Linked DNA regions of Homo sapiens: region 2 is linked to region 1. The links come from fine-mapping of genetic effects on gene expression. A gene starts in region 1. The other region holds a variant in brackets. All regions are shown on one strand. Distances are between the middles of the regions.

Region 1 (5,369 bases):
TGTGAGACCCTGTAATCGTGTGCAATTAATACTTAATAAACTTCCCTTTATATATATAACTATTCCATTAGTTCTGTCCCTCTAGAGAACCCTGACTAATACACTGTCTCAAAAAAAGAAAAAAGTTCATCAAAATTAAAAAAAATCCAGGCTGGGTGTAGTGGCTCACACCTGCAATCCCAGAACTTTGGGAGGCCGAGGTGGGTGGATCACCTGAGGTCAGGAATTCGAGACCAGCCTGGACAACATGGTGAAACGCCGTCTCTACCAAAAATACAAAAATTAGCCGGCCGTGGTGGCAGGCACCTGTAATCCCAGCTACTCTGGAGGCTGAGGCAAGAGAATCGCTTGAACCCAGGAGGCAGAGGTTGCAGTGAGCCAAGATGGCACCACCGCACTCCAGGCTGGGCAACAAGAGCAAAACTCCATCTCAAAAAAAAAAAAAAAAAAAAACTAAATAAAATACAAAATTCCGCTCCTCAGTCTCCCTGGCCATATTTCAAGCGCTCAGTAGTCACACAAGCCTACTTGACTTCTGTGGTTACCGTATTTGACAGCAAAGGGAACACTCTCATCACTGCAGAACATGCTATTGGATGGTGGTGGTCCATGGCTTCCCCATGCCCCGAAATAAAGTCTAAACTCTGTACCCTGAGGCTGAAGCTCTGCATGACAAGCTCCTGCCTCGCCTCGGCCCTCACTGGTCCTTTCTGTGCCAAGCTTGCTCGTGCCTCAGGACCTCTGCATGGGTTCTCCTCTCTCCACCTGGAACACTGCTCTCTTTCCCCTGACCTTCCAGCGAGGCCTCCTTCTTCTTTCTTGCTTCTCTGCATCCAGGACCCCTCAAAAGGGCCTCCCTCGGTTGGGAGTGGTGGCTCACACCTGTAATCTCAGCACTTTGGGAGGCTGAGGTGGGCAGATCACCTGAGGTCGAGAGTTCGAGACCAGCACCTGAGGTCGAGAGTTCAAGACCAGCCTGGCCAACACAGTGAAACACTGTCTCTACTAAAAATACAAAAATTAGCTGGGTGTGGTAGTGGGCACCTGTAATCCCAGCTACTTGGGAGGCTGAGGCAGGAGAATCACTTGAACCCAGGAGGTGGAGGTTGCAGTGAGCCAAGATCAAGCCATTGCACTCCAGCCTGGGTGACAGAGTAAGACTCTGTCTCAAAAAAAAAAAAAATTAGCTGGGCATGGTGGTACGTGCCTGTAATCCCAGTTACTCGGGAGGCTGAGGCAGGAGAATTGCTTCAACCCAGGAGGTGGAGCTTGCAGTGAGCCGAGATCGCGCCATTGTACTCCAGCCTGGGCTGCAGAGCAAGACTCCGTCTCAAAAAAAAAAAAAAAAAAAAAAAAAGGGCCTCCCTCTCTGCCCCTGGCTGACTCCTGCCCTAAACCATATCCCTGTACCCGCCGGAAGGCCTGCTGCAGAACAGATACTCAAAAACCGCTGGCTGAACACATGGACGAGGGGAAGCGTGTGGCCACTGATAAGGGCCGCATTTTACCTGATGCAATGGGCCAAAGTGAAGTCGGTTTCACCCTGGACCCCAAAATGTCACCGTTCTTAGGAGGAATCTCAGCTCCTCCCCTGTCCTTGAGTTTTCCCCAACTGGGTTTTCTCCCCCACCATCAGCCCCAAGCGCCTCATGGCCCCGCTACCTCACTGCATTCAGGTCTTCGGGTCACTGCTCAGATGTCTCCACTCAGAGCTCTCCCCGCCCCCTTCCCTGGTGTTATTTTCTTTTATTTTGTGCTACAGAGGGAGCTAGGAATTACATTATTTTAAGTCATTTAAAGTCGTCCCTCCCCCCCGGCGGTGAGCTGGGCGGGACCAGGCTGTCTGTCTTGCTCAGGGCCAGCTGCACCCAGCGCAGAGCCACCCAGGCACACAGTAGGCGCCCAATAAAGACCTGTCCGGCATCTGGATACCTCAGTCTGTACAGTGAAGGTGAGGGTGGCCTGCACGCTCTCAAACCGGAGGCTGCTCGGGCCGGGATGAGGAGGGCACGGGCTCATTCATTCAATCAGCACTTATTGAGCGCCTTCTGTGTGCCTCGCGCTACCGGGCACCGGAGACGGGCCTCGGCTAACGTGCGGGTAGAGTCCAACAGACCCCCGGCCGCTCAGCGCCGCCCCGCCCCGCCGCCCCAGGTCCTCTCTCTGCCCGCACCTACCTCCCGGGGGCCCCTCGTCCGCCGACTGGCGCCGCTGCACGCCCAACGGCCGCGCAGTCTCGACCCCACAGACGCGGCCCGGAGAGGCCCCGCTCGGCGCGGCTGGTCCACGCCCCGCCCACGCCCCTGCCCATTGGCCTCCCCGAGACCCGCTGGCAGAACTTTCCATACTATTGGCTGCGAAACCTGCCACTCATATGCGACTCCACCTCTCCTACCGGCACAGGAAAGGGGTTTCCTCCCGCTGAGCGGCGGGCGCAGCCACCAAGCGGCCCCGGCGGGAAACCCGGATTGGCGAGGAACGGTTCCGGCAGGGTTGGGTTTCCAGAGCTGTCCAGGGGCGCCTGGTGCTGAATCCCGCTTGGAAAGAGGCTTGGAGGTGGATGGGAAGGGATTTCCAACGGAGGCGGCTCCTCTCTCAGCGTCCTCGCTGCTGATCCCCTTACCGACGGCTGAAGAAGCAGATTCATCCCTTCAACAAATCTCTGTTGATAGGCAGGAGGAGTAAGTCCAAGAGATCGACTGTACATCATGGTGGCTACAGCTCGTAACAATGCATTGCATACTGCAAAATTGCTAAGAAAGTAGATGTTACATGTTCAAACCATGAAAAAATAAGTATAGGAGGTAACGCGTAAGTTAAAAACCAAATCTTGGCAGGGCGCAGTGGCTCACACTTGTAATCTCAGCACTTTAAGAGACCGAGGCGGGAGGATCGCTTGAGTCCAGGAGTTCAAGGCCAGCCTGGGCAGCATAGTGAGACCCCATCTCTAAAAAAAAAAAAAAGGTTTTTTTTGAGACAGAGTCTCGCTCTTGTCACTCAGGCTGGAGTGCAATGGCGCGATCTTGGCTCACTGCAACTTCCGACTCCCGTGTTCAAGCGATTCTCCTGCCTCAGCCTCCCGAGTAGCTGGGATTATAGGCGTGTGCCACTATGCCGGCTAATTTTTGTGTTTTTAGTAGAGACGGGGTTTCACCATGTTGGCCAGGCTGGTCTTGAACTCCTGACCTCAGGTGATCCTCTTACCTTGGCCTCCCAAAGTGCTGGGATTACAGGCATGAGCCACTGCGCTTGGCCTGATGACTTGATTCTAACAAATAGAAAATGGCAAATGAATGGGATGTCATTCTGCGATTAGGCTATGAGAGATTGTGACTTCTGTTTTGCCAGCAGAGCCTGTCTCTCGCCTTCTCAGCCTACGTGTCTTGACAAAGCAAGCTAAGATGCTGGAGAGATCCAGAGGGAAAGGAACTGAGGGTGTCCTCCAGCCAACAGTCAGCAAGGCAATGAGACCCTCAGCACAAGCGTCCATAAGGAACCAAATGCTACCAACAGCCATGAACGTGATCATGGAAGAGGGTCCTGCCCCAGTTGAGCCTTTGGATGACTGCTTCACTTCAATTGCAGCCTTTGAAACACCCTAAAACAGGGCTGCATGTGGTAGCTCATGCCTATAATCCCAGCACTTTGGAAGGCCGAGGTAGGCAGGTCACTTAAAGTCAGGAGTTTGAGACTAGCCTGGCCAACACGGCAAAACCCCATCTCTACTAAAAATACCAAAATTAGCCAGGCATGGTGGCGGGCACCTGTAGTCCCAGCTACTAAGGAGGCTGAGGCATCAGAATCACTTGGACCCAGGAGGCAGAGGTGACAGCGAGCTGAAATCATTACCATTACACTCCAGCCTGGGCAACAGAGTGAGACCCTGTCTCAAAAGAAAAAAAAAGAAGAAGAAGAAGAAGAAAGAAAGAAAAACAAAGACCCTGAAAACAGAAGACCCATATGAACTGCATCTGAATTCCTCACCCACAGAAACTGAGATAACACATGCTGTTCTAGCCACTTAGTTTTGTGTTTGTTTGCTTGTATTTTGAGACAGGGTCCTGCCCCATCACCCAGGCTGGAGTGCAGTGGTGCAATCACAGCTCACTGCAGCCATGACCTCCTGGGCTCAAGCAGTCCTCCCACCTCAGCCTCCCGAGTAGCTGGGAGCATGTGCCACCATGCCCAGCTAATTTTTTACCTAATGTCACACAGGCCAGTCTTGAACTCCTGGATTCAGGAAACCCTCCCACCTCAGCCTCCCAAAGTGCTGAGATTACAGGCATGAGCCACAATGCCTGCTGGCACTAAGTTTGGGGGAAAATTTGTCATATGGCAGTAGGTAACTAATACACATACATACTAGAAAAACTATAGGTTGTACTAAGTTCTGTGAAGAAAGAATGAGAGAGACTTCTGTGCAGGAATTAGCCAAGTCAAATGTACTGAGAAGGCCAGGTGTGGTGGCTCACACCTATAATCCCAGCACTTTGGGAGGCTGAGGTGGGTGGATCACTTGAGGTCAGGAGTTCAAGACCAGCCTGGCCAACATGGTGAAACCCTGTCTGTACCAAAAATATAAAAATTAGCAGGGCGTGGTGGTGGGCGCCTGTAATCCCAGCTACTCGGGAGGCTGAGGTAGGAGAATCGCTTGAACCTGTGAGGTGGAGGTCGCAGTGAACCGAGATCATGCCACTGCACTCCAGCCTGGGCGACAGAGCAAGACTCCGTCTCAAAAAAAAAAAAAAAAAAGAAAAAAAAGTACTGAGAAGTGGGGAGAGAAGAGAGGATAGTTGACAAAAAGATGGAGAAGGGCTTGCTGCATTTGAGGAGTTGGAAAGCCAGCCTGGCTGAATGTTCGTGAGCAGTAGGGAGATGGGAGATTAGGGACAGTCCCATAGACCGTGCTATGGAACTTGGATTTTACCGTAATTACAGTGTGATTCATTGAAGGATTTTAAGTAGGTGAAGGTTGTCATCTAATTTTAATTCTTAAGATTATTTTGACTCGTGTGTAAAGAAAGGCTGAATTATAGAGAAGCAAGAATGGAAGCAGGGAGACTACTTCAGAGCCCTCTGGGCAAGAGTTGGGCTGGGTGCCTTGGCGCACACCTGTAATCCTAGCACATTGGGAAGCCATTGCAGGAAGATCGCTTGAGCCCAGGAGTTCGAGACCAGCCTGGGCAACATAGTGAGACCCTATCTCTATTTCTAAGAAAAGACTTGACGGTAGTTTAGCTGAGGGCATTGACAGGAGAAAGGACAGTGGGTGAATTTGAGAAATATTTTGGAGGGTGAATTGACAGGACTTAGCACTGGTTTGTCTGTGTGGGTTGCAGGAGAAGGAGGTGTTGGGGGTGACTTCTGGT
Region 2 (5,369 bases), 29 kb before region 1:
TAGAAGCAAATCCTACTAAATCATCAGTCATATTTTCAAAATCTACTTCTGGAAAAAATCAACCACTAAAAATGCATACAGATATATAAAGGTGCTGGGCCGGGCGCGGTGGCTCACGCCGGTAATCCCAGCACTTTGGGAGGCCAAGGCAGGTGGATCACGAGATCAAGAGATCGAGACCAGCCTTGCCAACATGGTGAAACCCCATCTCTACTAAAAATACAAAAATTAGCTGGGTGTGGTGGCACGCACCTGTAGTCCCAGCTACTCAGGAGGCTGAGGCAGGAGAATCGCTTGAACCCGGGAGGCGGAGGTTGCAGTGAGCCGAGACGTGCCACTGCACTCCAGCCTGGCAACACAGCAAGACTCCATCTCAAAAAAAACAAAAAGAAAAGAAAAGAAAAAAGAAAATTAGATGGGCACAGTGGCACACACCTGTAGTCCCAGCTACTCTGGAGGATGAGGCAGGAGAATCGCTTGAACTGGAAAGGAGGAGGTTGCAGTGAGCCGAGACTGCACCACTGCACTCCAGCCTGGACAACAAATTGAGACAGTCTCAAAAAAATAGAAAGATATGTAAAGATGCTTAAATATTTGGTATATGTACACATGCACACATTTTTCCTTTTGCCTGAGGCTCTCAGGGGAAGGTTGGATGCTGTCTTTATTTGGGACTTTAAAATTTTGTTCAATGCAGATTTTTTGTACTCATGTCAATTTTTAAAAAAATATTGCATTAGGACCAGGTGCAGTGGCTCATGCCTGTAATCCTAGCACTTTGAAAGGCCAAGATGGGAGGATTGCTTGAGGCTAGGAGTTCAAGACCAGACTGGCCAACATAGTGAGACCCCCATCTCTACTAATAATACAAAAAATAAAAATTAGCTGGGCCGTGGTGGTGCATGCCTATAATCCCGGCTACTCGGGAGGCTGAGGCAGGAGAATTGCTTGAACCTGGCAGGTAGAGGTTGCAGTGAGCAGAGATCATGCCACTGCACTCCAGCTTGGGCAACAGAGCAAGACTCTCAAATACATACATATTGCATTAGTGAGGGTGGCTAGCGTGGCTAGGAGGGATATCACGAGGGAGTCTTTGGTGTCGCTTAAGTGTCTTGTTTGTGCAGTGGCTTACACCTGTCATCCCAGCACTTTGGGAGGCCGAAGCAGGAAGATCCGTTGAGCCCAGGAGTTCGAGACCATTCTGGGCAACATGGCAAGACCCCCCCACCATATCTACAAATATATATATAAGAAAATTAGCCGGGCGTGCTGGCTCACTCCTGCAATCCCAGCACTTTGGGAGGCCGAGGTGGGCGGATCACGAGGTCAGGAGATTGAGACCATCCTGGCTAACACGGTGAAACCCGTCTCTACTAAAAATACAAAAAATTAGCCGGGCGTGGTGGCGGGCGCCTGTAGTCCCAGCTACTCGGGAGGCTGAGGCAGGAGAATGGCGTGAACTTGGGAGGCGGAGCTTGCAGTGAGCCGAGATCGCACCACTGCACTCCAGCCTGGGCGACAGAGCCAGACCCCGTCTCAAAAAAAAAAGAAAGAAAGAAAATTAGCCACATGTGGTGACGTGCATGTGTCTGTAGTCCCAGCTACTCAGTTACTCGGGGGGCGCTGAGGTGGGAGGATCACTTGAGCCCAAGAGATTGAGGCTGCAGTGAGCTGTGTTCACACCACTGCACCATTCCAGCCTGGGCGACGGAGCAAGACCCTGACCAAAAAAAAAAAAAAAAAGTATCTCGTGACGGTGTTTAGAGGAAGTTATGCGTGTGATAAAACTGCATAAACCACACACACACTCACACACTCAGATGAGTGCATGCAAATCCAGTGAAGCTTGCATCCTTCCACTGTGCTGGTTTTGAGGTTATACTGCAGTTATGCAAGATGTAAACATAGCTGGGGGGCTGGGTGCAGGGTGCATCAGACCTCCTTGTACCTTCCCGTGAATCAATAATTATTAATAAATAAAACGTTTTAAAAATTGCAATGAAGGCCAGGCACGGTGTCTCATGCCTGTAATCCCAGCGCTTTGGGAGGCCAAGGCAGGTGGATCACCTGAGGTCAGAAGTTTGAGACCAGCCTGGCCAACATGGTGAAACCCCATCTCTATTAAAACCACAAAAATTAGCCGGGCATGGTTGTGGGCGTCTGTAATCCCAGCTACTCGGGAGGCTGGGGCAGGAGAATTGTTTGAAGCCGAGATCACACCACTGCACTCCAGCCTGGGCGACAGAGCAAGACTCCGTCTCAAAAAAAAAATAATTTTTAAAAGAGGGTGTCTCAAAACCCATGGTCACTTGGAGAAATAGAGGAGGGGGTCCCAGGCAGGTGCTATGCTCCCTGCAGCTGCAGCTGGGATCCCACCATCTTCACATCTGACCTGGAGGACATATCACTAACCACGGCCCTCTCCCGCCTCCTGGGATCCTGGCAAGCCAGACTCCAACCATACATTCACATTACACAGATAGGGAAGCTGAGGTCCTGTGGGTTCCTGC[C/T]TTTGTAAAATAGGGCTCTTAGTGCCTGTCCGACCTCCTCAGCCAGCTGCGGTAAGTACACGGTACAGCGGGGCCCTCGAGGTCTCTTGAGGGAAATGCTGAAATGTTCCCGTAACCCCCTGGCATCCTTCTCGTGAAAGTCCAAACTCTTCCCACAGCCCACCAGGCACTGTTTGACCCCTGCTGGCGACCTTCAACTTCACTGGCCACCTTCCCTCTCCTCCCTCCACTCCTCCCAGCCAGGCCTCACCTGTTCCTGCTTTGACACCTTTGCTGGTCCCCCTGTCCAGTGCTCCGTCCCAGGTCCCCTTGGAGCTGGCCTCTCCCCCGCTTCCCACATCAGCAAACACGTCAGCTTCTGAGTCAGACCTCAGAAGGCCTGGGACTCCCAGCCACGTCACTTTTGTGATGCAGGTTTATCTTCTGCGTAGGGAGCATGTGTCTGCGATGATTTGATCCACTTCTTCATAGGGAATCATCGTCCCCAGTGGGTTATGCTCTCTGAGCAGGCAGGGGGCTCTGGGGCTGGTGTCTGTCACTGCTGTGTCCCCAGCATCAGGGCAGGACCAGGCATAGAGTGGTGCCTCTTACATACTGGATGAATGAATGAATGAATGAACCAATGAATACGTGAATGAATGATGTCTCAGCTCTTCCTTCCTTCCAGTCTGGTCCTGAACAACGCCTTACCTCTTCAGGTCAGATCCCTGCCCCAGCCTGCTCTGGGTTAGGGGTGAGGGGTGGGGGCTGGGCTGGCAGATGGGACAAGCAGGGAAGGTCCCCTGACATGGTTTGGCTCTCTGTCCCCACCCAAATCTCATGTTGAATTGTAGTCCCGTGTTGGAGGTAGTGCCTGATGGGAGGCGACTGGATCATGACGGTGGATCCTCATGAATGGATCCACCCCTCAGTCCTGTCTCATAATAGAGTTCTCACAAGATCCGGTATGGCACCTCCTCCCCTGTGCTCCTGCTCCGGCCGAGTGACCTGCCTGCTCCCCTCTGCCTTCCCCCATGACCGTAAGTTTCCTGAGGCCTCCCAGAAGCAGCTGCTGCCATGCTTCCTGCACAGGCTGTGGAACTATGAGCCAATTAAACCTCTTTTCTCTATCATTTACCTGTATCAGGTATTTCTTTTCTTTTTGTGGGGCGGCGGGGGGTTGGACAGAGTTTCATTCTCGTCACCCAGGCTGGAGTGTAGTGGCACGATCTCAGCTCACTGCAAGCTCCGCCTCCCGGGTTCAAGTGATCCTCCTGCCTCAGCCTCCCTAGTAGTTGGGATTACAGACTCCCGCCACCACGCCCAGCTAATTTTTTGTATTTTTAGTAGAGACAGGGTTTTGCCATGTGAGCCAGGCTGGTCTCAAACTTCTGGTCTCAGGTAATATGCCCTTCTCGGCCTCCCAAAGTGCTGGGACTACAGGCATGAGCCACCGTGCCCGGCCTGGGTATTTCTTTATAGCATTCCAAGAATGGACTAATACAGTCTCCTCTGCCCCAACGCCACTGGGCCTGCAAGGAAATTGTCCACGTTCACAGAAAGTCCAGCTGGGAGGATGTCCCCAGCTAATGTGCACAGAGTGAATCTGGAAACCAACACCCTAGAAAAAAGCCACATAAAGACATCTCCAAGCAGAGTCCCAGACGGGTCCTGCCTTGCCTCCCCTGCTGCATGTCCTCAACCCACTCCCTCCACCTCCCCACCACCATCCCATCCTTCGCTTCCTACACAGGTCCCCTCCTCCACTCTTCACCCCATCCCTCACTTTCTACACCCACCACCTCCTCCACCCTTCCTCCCATCCCTCACTTCCTCCACCCATCACCTCCTCCATCCTTCATCCCATCCCTCACTTCCTACACCCATCGCCTCCTCCACCCTTCACCCCATACCTCACTTCCTACACCCATCACCTCCTCCACCCTTCACCCCATACCTCACTTCCTACACCCACCACCTCCTCCACCCTTCATCCCATTCCTCACTTCCTACACCCACCACCTCCTCCACCCTTCATCCCATCCCTCACTTCCTACACCCATCACCTCCTCCACCCTTCATCCCATCCGTCACTGTCTACACCGATCACCTCCTCCACCCTTCATCCCATCCCTCACTTCCTACACCCACCACCTCCTCCACCCTTAATGCCATCTCTCACTTCCTACACCCATCACCTCCTCCACCCTTCATCCCATCCATCACTGTCTACACCCATCACCTCCTCCACCCTTCATCCCATCCCTCACTTCCTCCACGCACCACCTCCTCCACCCTTCATCCCATCCCTCACTTCCTACACCCGTCACCTCCTCCACCCTTCATCCCATTCCTCACTTCCTACACCCACCACCTCCTCCACCCTTCATCCCATCCCTCACTTCCTACACCCGTCACCTCCTCCACCCTTCATCCCATCCCTCACTTCCTACACCCACCACCTCCTCCACCCTTCATCCCATCCCTCACTTCCTACACCCGTCACCTCCTCCACCCTTCATCCCATCCCTCACTTCCTACACCCACCACCTCCTCCACCCTTCATCCCATCCCTCACTTCCTACACCCGTCACCTCCTCCACCCTTCATCCCATTCCTCACTTCCTACACCCACCACCTCCTCCACCCTTCATCCCATTCCTCACTTCCTACACCCACCACCTCCTCCACCCTTCATCCCATCCCTCACTTCCTACACCCATCACCTCCTCCACCCTTCATCCCATCCCTCACTTCCTCCACCCACCACCTCCTCCACCCTTCACCCCATCCCTCACTTCCTACACCCATCACCTCCTCCACCCTTCACACCATCCCTCACTTCCTACACCCACCACTTCCTCCACCCTTCATCCCATC

What was found. PIP is the estimated chance that this variant, and not a neighbour inherited with it, causes the effect.
Region 2: its variant is fine-mapped to the expression of SLC39A3 in whole blood (TOPMed, PIP above 0.99).

The regions. Positions count from the first base shown.
Region 1 is chr19:2,737,768-2,743,136 of GRCh38, forward strand. It overlaps SLC39A3 (solute carrier family 39 member 3), which reads right to left and starts at 2,250. Exons shown (of 3, transcript NM_144564.5): 1 at 2,178-2,250. RefSeq lists silencers at 1,346-1,613, 2,022-2,421 and enhancers at 1,732-1,781, 2,482-2,531.
Region 2 is chr19:2,708,810-2,714,178 of GRCh38, forward strand. No RefSeq gene overlaps it. Among named protein-coding and RNA genes, the nearest start is that of GNG7, 8.8 kb to the left of the region's middle. RefSeq lists an enhancer at 1,682-1,761. The variant C/T (reference allele first, on the strand shown) is at 2,511.